3 separate regions of the Homo sapiens genome follow, and all the other regions are linked to region 3. The links come from fine-mapping of genetic effects on gene expression. A gene starts in region 3. Each other region holds a variant in brackets. All regions are shown on one strand. Distances are between the middles of the regions.

Region 1 (6,195 bases), 30 kb before region 3:
CAAGAAAAATGACAAATAACCACATCATTAACATGCGCTTATTGAAACAACTACATAGCTGCACACAAAAGAATAATATTTGTACTTGTTTCCTTCCTTAATCTCTGCAGCATTATGAAGTAATATATTATAAAGGAAATCCTTTTTATTAATTAATGAGGAGGAGCAAATAAATATATTTCTATTGGCATTAAAAACTAGATAAATTTTTACCATTCAAAGGATTGCTACCTGAGAATATGTTTATGTAGTGGCATTTTGAATTCTTTTTATTTTTTAAATCCTATTTTTAAAAACTGCTAAATCTACAATACTGGGCTTGAAAATCACAATAATCAAAGACATGATTGTTCTGTGCACATCTGCCTCCTGTACACTTAGAGACCCTGCTCTGCTGACATTTTTTTCTGTGATTTTGTTTTTCTCCTAGATAACCTTCATATTCTGGGCATCAGCACAATCCTCCAAATCCCTTTTGAAAACAAATGCATCCTTATTGCTACGGCAGCCACTTAATCTAGACACAAATACAGCTATATTAGGTGCACTGTAATGAAAAGTGAGGTGTGTATTGGGGAGAATTTCCGAGGTTGTTTTAAAAGCTGTTTAACATTACACAGTGGTTATTAGTTTTTAAATAATACTCCATAGGAAATGCCATGCTAGCTTAAAAAGGGGGTAGAGCAATAAAAATGGGCCACAGTAACAAAAGCAACTGGGTGGCTTTTAGATCCCAAGGGTGGATAAAAGAAAAGGTTTCGAGCGAATAGATTGTTTATACCTACAAAAAGCAAGGTCTGGTCTGGAGGAAGGTATATAATAGGATAGCCCCCTTCATACTCCAAAAAATATTATGTAGTCTATTTCAGACTATATACCTTTACAAATTATTGTCTGCATAATTATGCCCTCAATCTAATTTACTTAAAATATATACCTTCAAAGATAACTGAAGGTAGAGTATTAATAATTATTAGGACATTTAACCCTGAAAGACTGGGTTCCAAGTAAACATAAAAAATTATTCCATAAGCCTGGCCAACATGGAGAAACCCCATCTCTACCCAAAATACAAAAATTAGCCAGGCGTGGTGGTGGGCACCTGTAATCCCAGCTACTCAGGAGGCTGAGGCAGGAGAATCGCTTTAACCTGGAAGGCCGAGATCTGTACCACTGCACTCCAGGCTGGGCGACAGAGCAAGACCCTATCTCAAAAAAAAAAAAAAAAAAAATTCCACAAACCCTTACTGCAATCTGAAGAGGCAGAAACATAGATATGAAAGACAGTGAATCAGAAAAGTACAGGGAACTTCTTCAAGTCAGTCTAAGCCAGAATATCCTGTATTGCTCAGGCAGTGGAGGAACAAGAGTCTTACAGAACCACACACATTCTCTACATTGAGAAATACTGTACCCTGACAGAAACCTGTCTCCCCATCCCAGCCAGCCCATGCCTGAGAGAGTGCCATGGACAGAGGTCAATGCTTCTCTTGGGAGTTCTCTTTTCCCTAGGTATGCTGGGAGGGAGAGAAACAGTAACACAGAAGAAAATACATATTTTTTAAAGGTTAAATTCTAAGCCCTCTGTAATCTCCACTAGAAACATGAGTATGCAGTTCACAACTGAATTTGCCCACTTAGTATCACAAGTGTTGCCTCTGGCAGTTCTTCCAGAATATTAAGAAAAACTCTGAGTTTTCTAAAATAAAAATAGCAGATTCCACTCTTCTGTCTGATGGGAAAGGTATCTACTAGTTTGTCATCTCTCTTAAGGGCCTAGAAAATTAATTTGGGTGGAGGAACACACAATGAGTAAATTTGGTTTGTTTCTCAACCTTCAAGTACTCAAGAAAGATGCACAGGGATGCATCAACAAAGTAATAAGATTATACACATTTTGGATCTTATATCTTTGAGTGAGTGTCAGTCTTCAGAAGAGTCACCTTATAAGAACTGTCCACTCATTTTCATGATGCTCAGCAGACTCCACAGATTCTTCTTTCGTAATAAACTTCTGGGGAAATCTATTTTACTACATGATAGTAACGCCTTATGTTAAGGAAGAACCTTAACTTTTGACACAACTTAGTATCTTGCTCACTTAAACAGCTCTGAACTACTATCAAATCTTTATGAGTAAAAGCATGTGATAGATACTGAAATTGAAATAGGACCTCATCACTGTAGCACACATGTAGCTGTGTAGTTTTCTGTGATGATTATTGAGGAAATTATACTTGTTTAGCTGGATTTTTTTGAAAAAATTATGTGTAAACAACAACAGCAAAAGCCTGTATTTTTAAAATCTGGAAGACAATAGCAGTGAAATATTTCAGAATAGCTCTTGAAGTTTCCCAGTTAAGCCATTTGAACTTATGTGTTGGCCTATGAAATTTGAAAATCTGATTTGATGAATTACTGGAAGAACTATGTTATTTAAAGGCATCAAATAGCCACTTAGTTTAAAAATGTGCTCATGATTACATTTCAGAATCTTTCTTAGAAAGACAATTATTGTAATAGATGCTGTTAGTGCCCCCACATACATCCTTTTTACCAGGCCTGTATACCAGGCCCCCGGGGCTCTCAGGGTCAGCTACTATGGTCTTTTCTCCAGAGGACTACCCTCATTGAAAGGGAGCCACCTCACTTGGTACTATGTGGGAGGCTGTCCTTTCCCTCTGGAGACAGGCCCCACCCAACAACAGACTGATGAATACAAAAGAATTCCTTTGCCTCTCTGGAGCCACTCACACTCCAGAGCTCCCGGTGGGATGAGGTGGAAGCTAGGCTTCAGCAAACCCATCTCTTTGCGTGGCTTTTCCTGATGGTTTAGTCTGTTTCTCTCTCGCTCACTCACTTCCAGGTTTCAACGGAGAGTGTTCCTTCAATAAATTAACAGGCCAAAAGAGCCCACTGCAAGCTCTACAACTACAAAACCCACCCCAAGACAATTATGATCCTGTATAATAAAAGCAGTTTAAACTCTGAAGCAATATTTACATAAAAAGCAAATACGGTAGACACCACACTACCTTGACAGGATGAAGATT[C/T]GTTGTGGTGATAATTTTGTGCAGCGGGCCTGCCAACTTTGGGGGCAGTTTTGGCTCTTTATCCAGTCCCTGGGGCTTAGTGTAATAATCCAGTCTCTCTCGAGGAAAGAAATTGTTGATTATGGTCACACAATCATGTTGACCTTTTCATAGAAAAATAGAAAAGTTGTAGTTTTAGTATTAAAAATAACACATCTGGTTTTTAAAATTAATTATGTTGCTATTTTTGTGATGTAAACATGCACCAATATCTTTATTTTTCAGGAAAGGAGAGTAGAGGAGGAGGAGGAGAGATAAAATATTTTAGAGAACATTTATAAACATTCCTTGTAAAGTTGATAAACAATCTTTGAAAGACACAGAATCCAAAATACATACGAAGATTATGTGGATTACAAAAGAAAGCACTGCTCAACTTGTAAGAGACCTTAAGTATTTTCTAACAGTTGCTTGTAAGTTAAATGTCTCTTCTTCCCAGCCTACGCAAATGATGCTCATGTTTCCCTAATCACATCCAGTTGTATTTACACAAAATTTAAATTTACTCCATATAAAGTATTGTTCTTACTATAATGATAATATTAAACTAAACCCCCTCCCCCTTATCCCCTACCCCCTAAATTTGAGAAAAGCTTGCCCTCTTTGTGAAATGTAGAGAAAAGGCTTTCGCTCCCATAAGCTTGGAATCCACATCGTGGCTTTGCATAGAATTCCAAGCCACTTCTCTAAGCCATCTCTAGTTAAAAATGGTTCTATGAAAGCAAATTCTTCCCTAGCGAAGCTGCTGGTTTGCAAGTGTGCTCCTGCGGCGCCCCCCCCTCCCTAGCTCCCTCTCCACTACCTCTCTGGAGCAAAGCAGTGGCCACTCTGGGCAAGCAGGCAGAAGCCACAGGGCACACAGGAGGGCGGGCGCAGGCTCTTCCTGGATCTCCGGAGGAGACTTCTTCCTCCGCTCTGCCTGATGAGGGCTGGGGGACCAGCGGAGGCGCGCCTGGGGAGAGCGTGCAGACGCCATGGCCCCCGCTCCCGGAGAGTGGTTCCCCCTGGGTAGCCTGCATGGCCCCTGCCTGCTTGTGCTTGGTCCTGGGAGCGCCTGCTTGATCCTGCCGACAACAGGTGACCTGCGTGGGGATGGCACTGTGGGCCAGCTGGACGCTGGCGCTTGAGGCTGGCAGAGGGCTCTGCTTGTCCCTGAAAGTTCCTGGGAGAACCCAGGAGTGGCAGGCTTCATCCTTGTGCCTCAGCTGGTTTGCTGACCAAACCAGCTTAATGTCTCAATTAAATGGTTGAATACTTTTGATGAGACATTTTAGAACTTTTTTTTTTTATGGGAACACCTATCTTTTTATTGAAGCTCGATGTAGATTTTGTTTTAAGGAAGCATATGCAGTTTGTCTTCATCTTCCCTGGTTTCTTCATACACATTTCTAAATTTCCCCACAGTTACCTGTGTTGATTTTGATGCTGTATTCATAACCCACTTGCATTAGATTTGCTTGGTTGAATGTCATTTTTCTCTCTTCTTGAAGATTCTATAAGGAGAGTGATAATTTTCTAAAGTAATTAATTAATGTCTTAATTGAGACATTAAATTTTCTTCTTCCACTGATCCAGGACCCTATCAGCTTTACCTGACTTCCTGGGAGGTACAGAACAAGGTACGTATGGGGATCCAGCAATTCTGAAGACTACGCCATGCCTCCAACAGAGGGCTTCTTGGGTTGAAAGTGTGTGGGTAACATTTACCATAACAATAACTACCACAACTACAGCTAATAAATGCACTTAAGCAGATTCAATTATAATATATAAATAGACTTTCAAGAGCCGCAGAGAGATTCAAATTTTAAAAATTAACAGGCAAACTGAAAGAGGTGATCCTGGTTACTATTGAGAACTAAACTAGTAACACAGAGGATGAAGGGCAGGCATGGTGGCTCATGCCTATAATCCCAGCACTTTGGGAGGCTGAGGCAGGAGGATTGCTTAAGCCCAGGAGGTGCAGACCAGCCTGGGTAACACAGCACAAACCCGTTTCTACAAATAATTTAAAAAATTAGCTGGATACAGTGGTATGTGCCTGTAGTCCCAGCTACTTGGGATACTAAGGCAGGAGGATTGCTTGGGGCCAGGAGTTGGAGGCTACAGTGAGCGTGTTTTTTTTTTTTTTTTTTTTTTTTGGGTGAGACAGAGTCTGGCTCTGTTGCCCAGGCTGTAGTGCAGTCACGTGATCTTGGCTCACTGCAACCTCTGCCTCCTGGATTCAAGCAATTCTCCTGACTCAGCTTCCCAAGTAGCTGAGACTACAGGTGTGTGCCACCACACCTGGCTAATCTATTTTGTATTTTCAGATGGGGTTTCACTATGTTTGCCAGGCTGGTCTCAAACTCCTGACCTCAGGTGATCTGCCTGCCTTAGCCTCCCAAAGTGCTGGGATTACAGGCGTGAGCCACCATGCCCAGCCAAAGCTGCAGTGAGTTTTGATCACACCACTGCATTCAAGCCTGGGTAACAGACACCCTGTTTCAACAAAACAAACAAAAAAGATCGAGTGGATGAAATATCTCAAAACAGAAAAATTCAGATATAGAAATCATTATACAACAGATGAAAGAGCTAAAGAACAAATCCAGGAAATCTAATAGTGAAAATTAACAGACATCTCAAAGGAAAAAAAGGAATAGATGGAGAATTAAACAAATGATAAAAGAAAACTTCCCTGATTTGAAAAGAGAATTTAATAGTGATCACAATACCATTTTTGGTACTCTATGCTTTTATTAAGTACCAGAACACCCAATTTCTTTCTTTTTGGGGGGATTCGGGGAGGTGGGTATTTCTTTTATTTCTTTCCCCAGTACATACGTCTTGAAAAGTCAAACAGTAGCAGTCTATATTAAAAATGTGAAATGAGCCAAGGTGCTCTGTTTAGAAAATGATCACCTCTCCTTCCAGAATCTTCAAGAGAGAAAAATGACATTCAACCAAGCAAATCTAATGCAAGTGGGTTATGAACACAGTTATCAAAATCAACCCAAGTAATTGTGAGGAAATTTACAACTGTATGTGAAGAAACCAGAGAAGATGAAGACAAACCGCACATGCTTCCTTAAAACAAAATCTACATCCAGCTTCAATAAAA
Region 2 (6,195 bases), 920 kb after region 3:
AAACAACTATTTCTACTACCTCCAACTACCTTAGTTATGGCCATATAAACAGACTCTTTCCCTCTCCCTCTCAAATATATGTGAATATATGTGTATATATGCATATTTACATAGCCAAATAATATATACTCAACTTTCTGAATAATTCCATCCACTTGAAACCTAGTTTTAAATGTGTAGGAAAGCAATTAATATGAGCAATAGAGTACAGATTGCACAAGAGATGCTTCTAATATACTTTATTTCCACGACTAGACAAATGCCTTTGCATATGTTTTAAGAATAATAAACTGACCACATATCCTTTCCAACTTAACGATTTATGAGGAAGTTGGTTTCAAATAAACCAAAACAGTGCTACCCACAGAAATAGCAGAGAGTAAGGATCTCTTAAAAGGGGCTTCTTCCTCACCACTGTGACTCATCAGAAGCCCGGATTTGAAGAATGCATTTGCCTTCAAAACCTGAAGGCTATTCTAATCCTGACTCCTTGTACAGACCTGGAAATTTACCTAAATTGTTAATGCCCTGGCTACCAAATTGACACAATAGTAATTTCCTCCTGTTTATCTCATAAGATGTTGAGGAAGTTACCAAGAAATTTTAAAGTACTATACATATCAGTGCTATTAAAACATTTTTTATTTCATACACTCCACAAATACCCAGTTACCAATTTAAATATAACAAGTAGTCCTCTACATAACAGGGTACTATCAGCCAGACAATAAAATAACTAGCTTATTTTAGAGCACATAAAACATCTCATCCTTATATTTTTACTTGGATGAAACACAAGGTTATTAGCCTTAGTATTTTGTTTAATCAAAAGTCATTTAACCAAGTAACAATCTGATGGACAAAGAGCCAAGCAGTAAAATTATAAATTTCCTTAAAGTTCTGGAAAAATATTCTACAGTTTCAATATGTTATATAATATGTTTAAACTATTCTAAAAAATGTACCCAGAGTCTCAATCTGTCCAGTCTGCATTAATCCACAAGAAAACAATAAGACTATGGTATATGACAGTTTATCCATAAAAAAACCACAAAGATATCTGCATAAAATATTTTTAAAACATCATATTCTAAAAAACATACAAATACAAACCATTTTTAGACATGTGCTTATGAAAAGTATTACAATCATGAGCATTTTCATGGTGCTCAGAAAGATAAGATTTAAGTGGTATGGTTATAACCAATTAATTGGAAAAACAGAAAAGCCAAAGAGATCACTTATAAAAGCAATTTTCTAGTATGTCCTGTGTTGAGAAAGGAAATGTATACTACCTACTTTCTAGGAGTCTATAATTAATATTACTTAATCTACTTTACTATCAATGTCATAAAAAGGCAAAGTATAGTTTTATTTTTCTTTTTTTATTATACTTTAAGTTCTAGGGTACATGTGCACAATGTGCAGGTTTGTTACATATGTATACAGGTGCTATGTTGGTGTGCTACACCCATTAACTCGTCATTTACATTAGTTATATCTCCTAATGCTATCCCTCCCCACTCCCCTCACCCAACAACAAGCCCCGGTGTGTGATGTTCCCCGCCCTGTGTCCAAGTGTTCTCATTGTTCAGTTCCCACCTATGAGTGAGAACATATGGTGTTTGGTTTTTTGTCCTTGAGATAGTTTGCTCAGAATGATGGTTTCCAGCTTCATCCATGTCCCTACAAAGGACATGAACTCATCCTTTTTTATGGCTGCATAGTATTCCATGGTGTATATGTGCCTCATTTTCTTAATCCAGTCTATCATTGATGGACATTTGGGTTGGTTCCAAGTCTTTGCTATTGTGAATAGTGCCGCAATAAACATACGTGTGCATGTGTCTTTATAGCAGCATGATTTACAATCCTTTGGGTATATACCCAGTAATGGGATGGCTGGGTCAAATGGTATTTCTAATTCTAGATCCTTGAGGAATCACCACACTGACTTCCACAATGGTTGAACTAGTTTACAGTCCCACCAACAGTGTAAAAGTGTTCCTATTTCTCCACATCCTCTCCAGCATCTGTTGTTTCCTGGCTTTTTAATGATTGCCATTCTAACTGGTGTGAGATGGTATCTCATTGTGGTTTTGATTTGCATTTCTCCGATGGCCAGTGATGATGAGCATTTTTTCATGTGTCTGTTGGCTGCATCAATGTCTTCTTTTGAGAAGTGTCTGTTCACACCCTTTGCCCACACGTTGATGAGTTGTTTTTTTCTTGTAAATTTGTTTGAGTTCTTTGTAAATTCTGGATATTAGCCCTTTGTCAGATGAGTAGACTGCAAATTTTTTCTCCCATTCTGTAGGTTGCCTGTTCACTCTAATGGTAGTTTCTTTTGCTGTGCAGAAGCTCTTTAGTTTAATTAGATCCCATTTATCAATTTTGGCTTTTGTTGCCATTGCTTTTGGTGTTTTCGACATGAAGTCCTTGCCCATGCCTATGTCCTGAATGGTATTGCCTAGGTTTTCTTCTAGGATTTTCATGGTTTTAGGTCTAACATGTAAGTATTTAATCCATCTGGAATTAATTTTTGCATAAGGTATAAGAAAAGGGTCCAGTTTCAGCTTTCTACATATGGCTAGCCAGTTTTCCCAGCACCATTTATTAAATAGGGAATCCTTTCCCCATTTCTTGTTTTTGTCAGGTTTGTCAAAGATCAGATGGTTGTAGATGTGTGGTATTATTTCTGAGGGCTCTGTTGTGTTCCATTGATCTATATCTCTGTTTTGGTA[C/T]CAGTACCATGCTGTTTTGGTTACTGTAGCCTTGTAGTATAGTTTGAAGTCAGGTAGCGTGATGCCTCCAGCTTTGTTCTTTTGGCTTAGGATTGACTTGGCAATGTGGGCTCTTTTTTGATTCCATATGAACTGTAAAGTAATTTTTTCCAATCCTGTGAAGAGAGTCATTGGTAGCTTGATGGGGATGGCATTGAATCTATAAATTACCTTGGGCAGTATGGCCATTTTCACGATATTCCATTCCGTATGATATTGGCTGTGGGTCTGTCATAAATAGCTCTTATGATTTTGAGATACGTCCCATCAATACCTAATTTATGAAGAGTTTTTAGCATGTAGGCCTGCTGAATTTTGTCAAAGGACTTTTCTGCATCTATTGAGATAATCATGTGGTTTTTGTCTTTGGTTCTGTTTATATGCTGCATTATGTTTCTTAATTTGCATCTGTTGAACCAGCCTTGCATCCCAGGGATGAAGCCCACTTGATCATGATGGATAAGCTTTTTGATGTGCTGCTGGATTCAGTTTGCCAGTATTTTATTGAGGATTTTTGCATCAATGTTCATCATGGATATTGGTCTAAAATTCTCTTTTTTTTGTTGTGTCTCTGCCCGGCTTTGGTATCAGGATGATGCTAGCCTCATAAAATGAGTTAGGGAGGATTCCCTCTTTTTCTATTGATTGGAATAGTTTCAGAAGGAATGGTATCAGCTCCTCCTTGTACCTCTGGTACAATTCGGCTGTGAATTCGTATGGTCCTGGATTTTTTTTGGTTGGTAGGCTATTAATTATTGCCTCAATTTCAGAGCCTGTTATTGGTCTATTCAGAGATTCAACTTCTTCCTGGTTTAGACTTGGGAAGGTGTATGTGTCGAGGAATTTATCCATTTCTTCTAGATTTTCTAGTTTATTTGCGCAGAGGTGTTTATAGTATTCTCTGATGGTAGTTTGTATTTCTGTGGGATCAGTGGTGATATCCCCTTTATCATTTTTTATTGCATCTATTTGATTCGTCTCTCTTTTCTTCTTTATTAGTCTTGCTAGCAGTCTACCAATTTTGTTGATTTTTTCAAAAAACCAGCTCCTGGACTCATTGATTTTTTTGAAGGGTTTTTTGTGTCTCTGTCGCCTTCATTTCTGCTCTGGTCTTAGTTATTTCTTGGCTTCTGCTAGCTTTTGAATGTGTTTGCTCTTGCTTCTCTAGTTCTTTTAATTGTGATGTTAGGGTGTCAACTTTAGGTCTTTCCTGCTTTCTCTTGTGGGCATTTAGTGCTATAAATTTCCCTCTACACACTGCTTTGAATGTGTCCCGGAGACTCTGGTATGTTGTGTCTTTGTTCTCACTGGTTTCAAAGAACATCTTTATTTCTGCCTTCATTTTGTTACGTACCCAGCAGTCATTCAGGAGCAGGTTGTTCAGTTTCCATGTAGTTGAGCGGTTTTGAGTGAGTTTCTTAATCCTGAGTTCTAGTTTGATTGCACTGTGGTCTGAGAGAGAATTTGTTATAATTTCTGTTCTTTTACATTTGCTGAGGAGTGCTTTACTTCCAACTATGTGGTCAATTTCGGAATAAGTGCTATGTGGTGCTAAGAATATATATTCTTTTGATTTGGGGTGGAGAGTTCTGTAGATGTCTATTAGGTCCACTTGGTGTGGAGCTGAGTTCAAGTCCTGGATATCCTTGTTAACGTTCTGTCTTGTTGATCTGTCTAATGTTGACAGTGGGGTGTTAAAGTCTCCCATTATTATTGAGTGGGAGTCTAAGTCTCTTTGTAGGTCTCTAGGGGCTTGCTTTATGAATCTGGGTGCTCCTGTATTGGGTGCATATATATTTAGGATAGGTAGCTCTTCTTGTTGAATTGATCCCTTTACCATTATGTAATGGCCTTCTTTGTCTCTTTTAATCTTTGTTGGTTTAAAGACTGTTTTATCAGAGACTAGGATTGTAACCCCTGCCTTTTTTTGTTTTGCACTTGCTTGGTAGATCTTCCTCCATCCCTTTATTTTGAGCCTATGTGTGTCTCTGCATGTGAGATGGGTCTCCTGAATACAGCACACTGATGGGTCTTGACTCTTTATCCAATTTGCCAGTCTGTGTCTTTTAATTGGAGCATTTAGCCCATTTACATTTAAAGGTAATATTGTTACTTGTGAATTTGATCCTGTCATTATGATGTTAACTGGTTACTTTGCTCATTAGTGATGCAGTTTCTTCCTAGCATCGATGGTCTTTACAATTTGGCATGTTTTTGCAGTGGCTGGTACTGGTTGTTCCTTTCCATGTTTAGTGCTTCCTTCAGGAGCTCTTTTAGGGCAGGCCTGGTGGTGACAAAATCTCTCAGCATTTGCTTGTCTGTAAAGTATTTTATTTCTCCTTCACTTATGAAGCTTACTTTGGCTGGATATGAAATTCTGGGTTGAAAATTCTGTTCTTTAAGAATGTTGAATATTGGCCCCCACTCTCTTCTGGCTTGTAGAGTTTCTGCCAAGAGATCCGCTGTTAGTCTGATGGGCTTCCCTTTGTGAGTATCCCAACCTTTCTCTCTGGCTGCCCTTAACATTTTTTCCTTCATTTCAACTTTGGTGAATCTGACAATTATGTGTCTTGGAGTTGCTCTTCTTGAGGAGTATCTTTGTTGCATTCTCTGTATTTCTTGAATTTGAATGTTGGCCTGCCTTGCTAAGTTGGGGAAGTTCTCCTGCATAATATCCTGCAGAGTGTTTTCCAACTTGGTTCCATTCTCCCTGTCACTTTCAGGTATACTAATCAGATGTAGATTTGGTCTTTTCACACAGTCCCATATTTCTTGGAGTCTTTATTGCTTCTTACTCTTTTTTCTCTAAACTTCTCTTCTTGCTTCATTTCATTCATTTGATCTTCAGTCACTGATACTCTTTCTTCCAGTTGATCAAATCGGCTACTGAAGCTTGTGCATTCGTCACGTAGTTCTTGTGCCATGGTTTTCAACTCCATCAGGGTTTCAACTGCATCAGGTCATTCTCTACACTGGTTATTCTAGTTAGCCATTCGTCTAATCTTTTTTCAAGGTTTTTAGCTTCTTTGCAATGGGTTCAAACTTCCTCCTTTAGCCTGGAGAAGTTTGATCGTCTGAAGACTTCTTCTCTCAACTCGCCAAAGTCATTCTCCATCCATCTTTGTTCTGTTGCTGGTGAGGAGCTGCGTTCCTTTGGAGGGGGAGAGGCACTCTGATTTTTAGAATTTTCAGCTTTTCTGCTCTATTTTTTTCCCCAACTTTGTGGTTTTATCTACCTTTCGTCTTTGATGATAGTGACGTACAGATGGGGTTTTGGTGTGGTTGTCCTTTCTGTTTGTTAGTTTTCCTTCTAACAATCAGGACCCTCAGCTGCAGGTCTGTTGGAGTTTGCTAGAGGTCCACTCCAGACCCTATTTGCCTGGGTATCAGCAGTGGAGGCTGCCGAACAGCA
Region 3 (6,195 bases):
GTTTTGTTTAGTTTGTTTTTAGGTACAGCCTGTTTATTACCTATGGGCCCTGTGATACCTCTGCTCTGCCACTTTCTGCCACTTACCTGTTTGACACTAAGTTTCCTAACTTCCCAGTTCCTCAGTTGCCTTGCCTATAAAGTGAAGATTACTATATTTATCACAAACACAAGCAGTATTTCGAATGCTTTAACTATACTAACTACTTTCATCCCCATAACAACGTTGTGAGGTGGGTATTATTATTATTCCTATTTTTCACACAGAGGACTTGAGGCTCAGGAAAAGTCACTTGCCCAAAGGCCACATCACCAGTAAATGAGTTAGAATTTCAAACCAGACCTGCATGGTTAACCACTATCCCATGCTGTCTCTCATACTGTCATAGCTTAAAATTAATTCCTAGCTCATCCAAATTAAATGCATTAATATATGTAAAGTACTTAAAATTATGTGTGGCTTGCAATAACAGTCAATAAACGTTGGCTATGGTTGTTTTTCTCATATCTCCCATTACTTTTCTTTATGAGTGCAAGTGATGTCCCACAGACCTTCATTTGACAAGAATGCATCACATACTAGGTCCACATCAGTTCTTTTCTCATTGGCATGGTCCAATGAAAGCGATGAAAGCATCAGTGCACTCATGCAACTTGATGCACCGTGTGAGCCCAGAAATATCACAGCACTAACCAGAATAAATGCACATTAATTCAGGTTTATATAATCTTCAAAATAAATACTGATGGACACCTGAGAATGTATCCAAGGAATCCCTTCTCCCCTCTCAAAGACTCAATTTATAAAACTGCTCACTATTTTTCACTTTTAAGAGATCACATGATGGGCCAGGCCCAGTGGCTCATGCCTGTAATCCCAGCACTTAGGGAGGCCGAGGCAGGAGGATCACTTGAGCCCAGGAGTTCGAGAGCAGCCTGGGCAACATAGGGAGACCCCCACCACCCCATCTCTACAAAAAAAAAAAAAAAATCTTTCTAAAGTAGCCGGGCATGGTGGCTCGCACCTGTAGTCCCAGCCACTAGGGAGGTGGAGGCTGCAGAGAGCTGCAACTCCAGCCTGGGTGAAGAGTGAGATCCTGTCTCAAACAAACGAGAGAGAGAGAGAAAGAGACAGCGAGAGCGAGAGAGAGAGAGGACATGTACTAGCTCTGTCCTGCCTAAAAGAATTTTTGTCCCTGGTGGATTGTGAATTGATCCTTTGTCTCCTTTTTGCCCAGCACAGTACCTGGCACACAGCTAGAACTTGCATGTTTGCTTAATTGAATCCCAGAGCCATCAAAGGCAGGGAGAAATTACCTAGAGACAGGAAGAACTGAAAGACTGAAATGCCAAATAGGTCAGCAAGAACCATGCAGTACAACAATCTAAACTCTAACCCAAATCCCCAAATTCCAGGCAAAGAACACATCATTGATAGATATAGCTGTGACTGACTTAGAATAGTTGAGATCAGATCGGGTGGGCTCAGCTCATCAGCACCTGTTGAGTTCAAACCGGAATTTTTTCTCCTTCGCATGTGGAGTTTCCTTGTCGCTATGAAGAATAAATCTGCCTTATTCTCTAGGATTCCACATTTCAGCCTGGCTACTAAGTAAATAAAACTGGAAACTGGGAAGCCTTATGCTGCAATGACTGGCATCTCTGCCATTCGAGGACAAACATGGCTATATTATTATTGAGTTTAAAATCACCACATTAATTGCCCGGAGTCGCACGCATCACCATCCCTGCACCGTGAGGGTGCAGAAGAAGCATGCAGTCACGCTGATGTCACCTGCCAGGTAACGGGACTCGGCAGGGAACTCCTCTGGGACGTCCACTCGGGGACTCCGGGGAAATATGGCTTCTGGCTCGTCCTCGGGGCTCCCCGCTGGGACTCAGCACTGCGGAAGTGGGGCACGCCTTGGGGGAGTGGACAAGAAAGCGCGAAGGAGCGCGATTAGAAGGTCTCATCTGTGCAACGTGGGCCGAGGGGTGGGTGTGGAGGCCTCGCCAATTTCCTTGTCTCTCTAGGGTTCCTGAGGCTGTCGGGGCTTCTGGAAGCCAGGGAGGCCCTGGATACGGAAGTCTCAATGCAGCAAATTACAGACCTAGTTCTGTACCCTTATGAAGAACCCCTCTCCCTAAGGGCGCCCTCCACTCCCAAGCGGGGGCGGGGATCGGCAAAGGATCCAGATCATTCGGCCTGCGGAAGTCTAAAGGGTCATTTAGACACCCGCCTAAGAACCTGAAACTACCAGGACTGACCGCGGTCAAAATCCCTCGGGAGCAGTGAAGAATTCACACACTGGGGTCCACACCCCGGGAAGCTCGCATTAACCTAAGGCGGGGCGTGGAAATCCGTACGTTTCCAAAAGCGGATTTAGAGGCCGAGCCTCTGTAACTACCCCTCTTGTCCCAGCACTGCTTCTGCCTCCCCACCTCTCCGCCCCTGCAACCTTTCCCAGACCAAAGGGAGAAACGCTCTTTCCCGGTTCCAGGCTGCAAACCTTGCAGAACCGCAGCCAAAGGTCACCCAGGCCAGGAGCGCCCCCCGGGCTCCGCCACGCCCCCCGGCCAGGCTGGCCGCGGCCGCGTCGCAGCCCAGCACCCGTACCTTTCCCGATGACTTCCAGTAGCTCCTTCTCCTCCTGGGTCAGCTCGCCTTTCTTTATGTGAACCATTGCTCCCGCCAGCTTGAAGGTTATTCCCTTTCTTAGGGAGTATTAAAAAAGAAACGATGCGTCTGTATTGGGAACGCCAGCCGCAATGAGGCAACTTGAGACCAAGACACTGAGTAGCCAACCGCGGAAACGCTTCGCTTCTCTCCTCCCTCCCGCGGGCTGGCGGACAGCGGGCGAGCTCGGGCGAGCCAGGCGGACGGTCTCCGCAGGCCCTGCGGCGGTCACCGCCTGCCGCCTGTCATTGGCCCTGCCGAGGAGGAGGAGCCGCAGGAGGCGGTAGCGAGAGATCGCCATTGGAGCAACCTGGGAGGACAAAACCAAATGCAGAAAGCTGGAGGGGGGAATTAAATTCCTCCTACACGTTCCGCTCCCCTATCCTGTCCGGTTCAAATATTTCGCCACATGTAATATTGAAAATTCTACAGCTGGCAGTTATGTGCTCAGCGACGGCTTTCTGGGGCATGCAGAGGCCCCAGGTTGTCGCCGTACCCCCACCATTCCCCCGGGAGTGGCGCAGTCTGGGCGGGGGCGGTCTAGGAGACGGGGGCGGTACGGGAGGCGGGGCTGCGCCGGGTTCCGTGTGTCTATGTCAATGTGTCTGTCCTTCACTCCTCCATTGTCTGCCGCCACTGCTGCTGCTGCTGCTGCTGCCGCTGCTGCTGCACGAATCGCCGCAGCCCCCAGCCTTGCGCGTCGTCGCTACCTCCTCGGACAGGTGAGAAGCAGCCCAGGTGAGGCAAGGGGCGCCGTGAGGGTTGCGAGAGTAGCGACTGCCGCCCCGCCGGGGTTTCCATCGGGCAGGAGCTGGCGGGGAGGAAGCATGTGCCTCCTGGGGCGGCTTCCTGCCTCGCGGTGGAGAAGCCCCCGCTCCACCTCATCATCACGGCGCGTACGGGGTATCAGTGCCCTGGGATGAAGACCTCCGACTCGCAACGTTTGGCCGCCTCGGGAGACCCTGGGACCGCGGGCGGGCGGGCGGGGGCCAGCCACGCGGTGGGAAGTGGCGGGTGCACATGGTCTCGTGCGTGGCACCGCCAGATGCGGCTCCCGGGGAGGCTGGGGCCGGGGCTCTGGGCTAGGTAGGGGTCGCAAGGACAGCGCCCCATTACTAGCGAGTCAGTGAGAACAGACTCGGGAGAAGGTAGTTTTTACGCTGGTGATCCTCGCCCTCCCCACTACTTGTCATCTCTTTGGCCTCTGTGGAAGCTGTAGAAGAAAACCTGATCGCCCAATGTTGCTTGTTAAAGATGTTTGGAAACAATTTACACTTGCACTAATACTTCGTTTATGAGAGACAGCCTGTGGGAGGGGGAAGGAAGGGCTTCTTTGCTCTGCTAGAGTTCTCGGTTCTCTTTGTAACTCAGATCTTGAGATTTATGGAAATAGGGAGTGGAGGGTGGGGAGGTTGGAGAGGGCGGAGATTAAATTGGTGTTGCTGCCTATATATAGCCTTAGATTAGCCTCTTAATCCAACCTTCATTCAACTGTAATATGTAGCCTGGAGCTTCGACCATAGGTAGATGGGGGTAAATACAAGTGTGTATTTCAGAATAAGATTTGCTTGCTAAAATGCGGGAATCAGTCATTTCTCCAGGGTGCAGATTTATATTTACATCATCAATGAAAGTTTCTTTGGAAATTAGTGTTTATGTTTTACTGTTGTTTCCCTACAGAGTAGTATTGATGTTTCTCTCAATATGTGTGTCAAAGAGACGTGTATGTGTCAAAGAGAAATATTTGAGTAATTATGTAGGTGGTTTTTGTTAAGCATCCCCAGGACCACTGTTTCTTCTCATAGCGCCATACGAAAAGCGAAATGCATTTTCCTCTGGCCTTAGGCATTTATTTTGCGTGAAGCTTTCACTAACATCTGAAATCTCCTGGAATATGTTTATCATTATTTCCTGCCTTTAGCAAAAATCTTTCCTAAACTCCAGCTGTTTTTCCCCCCTAAAGCTTCAGCATTAAAGACTGGGACAGATCTGAGCCAGAACATCTTACATGAAAATGGTTTGAAATTATTCATCTCAGTGTATAACAAAGATACTTTTGTTGGATGATGCTTTAATAATGATGTGGCTGTTCAAGCAAGTAGTAAGGCTCCTGAGAGTGACCAATCTTTTGTAATGCTGTTAGTTCAGAGTTACAATTGATTTATAACATAGTATCATGCGGAAGAAACCCACAAACCTAAAAAAACAGTTGAGTGGTAACCTCCTGGAACATGTGATTTAGCATCTTACCAGCAGATGCATACACATAATTGGGTACTTCATTGCTAGTATTTCCATCTCTTGTGCCAAATCTGGGCCATGGTTACTTGAAGGTCACACCTGTTTGTCTCACTGGGGTTGTCAGTTCCTCGAGGATAGCAGCTTACTATCTATTTTCTTGATGCCTTATGACACTTGGTTGGTATTTAGTGCTCTCTGAATACATGACCAGTGAATTTAGAGACAATAACGTTGAAAGAGAATCTAACATCTACCTAGAAATGCAAATAAATCATGTTCAGTTTACATTTCTAGAAACAGATTCATAATGGGTACTGTTCATTAGATGGATTGATTACATTAGTAGTTTTGTATGGTGTAAATATTTAATGTAGGGATAAGATTAGATAATGAGCATATTAAAACAGATTCACATCAAAGAAGTTTTATTGATAATAAGATAGCTACTTCATATTGAGTATTTAGTCTGTGCTAGATATTCTACCAGATGCTTTGCATAGAATTATTCTAGTGTTATGACAACCCAGGAATGAGCCAATATTATACCCACTTTGCAAATAAGAGGACAGAAAGTAAGGGAAATAATTTGCCCACAATCCCATATTAGGAAGTGTCAAGTCAGAATTGGAATAATGATTTCTGAAATGTTTGAAATGTTGTATGTGTCCTCTCATATCTACCACTCTAGAGCTATTGCAATGCATCTTAAGTAGCCTGCTTCTCTCTCACCTGTCTCCATCTAGCTAATTCAGGGAACTACCAGTTCAATAAACATTGAGCACCCATCATTCTTTGAATGGCTCTCTGCTGGCCACAGAATAGAGGGCTGGGTCTGGCCTGGAAGGTTCCAATCCATCCATGGTCTCAGCAGGCATTTCCAGTCATCTGGGCCCTCCCACACACTGGGCTCTAAGGTCACCACTCTGCTTGTTCCCCAACCTGCCGGTAATTTCCACCCCTTTGTTCCTGCTTTTCTCCTCCTCTGAATGATTTCCCTTCCCTTTTCACTGAATCTCCTCTCCAGATCTGATGAACTATTCAACTTTCCAGACACAATTTAAACAAAACCTCTTTTCTTCAGCTTTTGTGTTCATCTCTCCCTCTCTATCCAGTAAGGGAAATATACATGCTAGTAAATACATTTATTCATGTCTCTTGGCAAGGGTTATAAGTAAAATCTTTGTACATGGAGGATATTGATATGCAACATGGCTACTGGTATCATTGCTGGCAGCCTTTAATTCTCTCTTCTTATGGATTCTAGCGACCCCTCTTTTA

Alleles and levels. Positions count from the first base shown, and alleles are read on the strand shown. Sizes are in standard deviations (SD) of each study's normalised expression. Not every link is listed here.
For the expression in lymphoblastoid cells of the gene that starts at base 2,864 in region 3, T is the low allele of the variant in region 2 and C is the other (large effect, 1.4 SD a copy in GTEx).

The links.
Region 1: its variant is fine-mapped to the expression of ANKMY2 in whole blood (TOPMed, PIP above 0.99).
Region 2: its variant is fine-mapped to the expression of ANKMY2 in lymphoblastoid cells (GTEx, PIP above 0.99).

Annotation. Positions count from the first base shown.
Region 1 is chr7:16,612,709-16,618,903 of GRCh38, forward strand. ANKMY2 (ankyrin repeat and MYND domain containing 2) reads right to left here. Exons shown (of 10, transcript NM_020319.3): 5 at 3,036-3,196. LOC105375169 (a long non-coding RNA gene) reads left to right here. Exons shown (of 5, transcript XR_007060226.1): 2 at 431-564; 3 at 3,318-3,471; 4 at 4,668-4,711. Among named protein-coding and RNA genes, the nearest start is that of ANKMY2, 30 kb to the right of the region's middle. The variant C/T (reference allele first, on the strand shown) is at 3,054.
Region 2 is chr7:17,564,659-17,570,853 of GRCh38, forward strand. No RefSeq gene overlaps it. Among named protein-coding and RNA genes, the nearest start is that of LINC02889, 8.8 kb to the left of the region's middle. The variant C/T (reference allele first, on the strand shown) is at 2,745.
Region 3 is chr7:16,642,891-16,649,085 of GRCh38, forward strand. It overlaps ANKMY2 (ankyrin repeat and MYND domain containing 2), which reads right to left and starts at 2,864. Exons shown (of 10, transcript NM_020319.3): 1 at 2,617-2,864. The coding sequence starts at 2,683. BZW2 (basic leucine zipper and W2 domains 2) reads left to right here and starts at 3,291. Exons shown (of 12, transcript NM_014038.3): 1 at 3,291-3,398. RefSeq lists enhancers at 2,991-3,270, 5,465-5,976.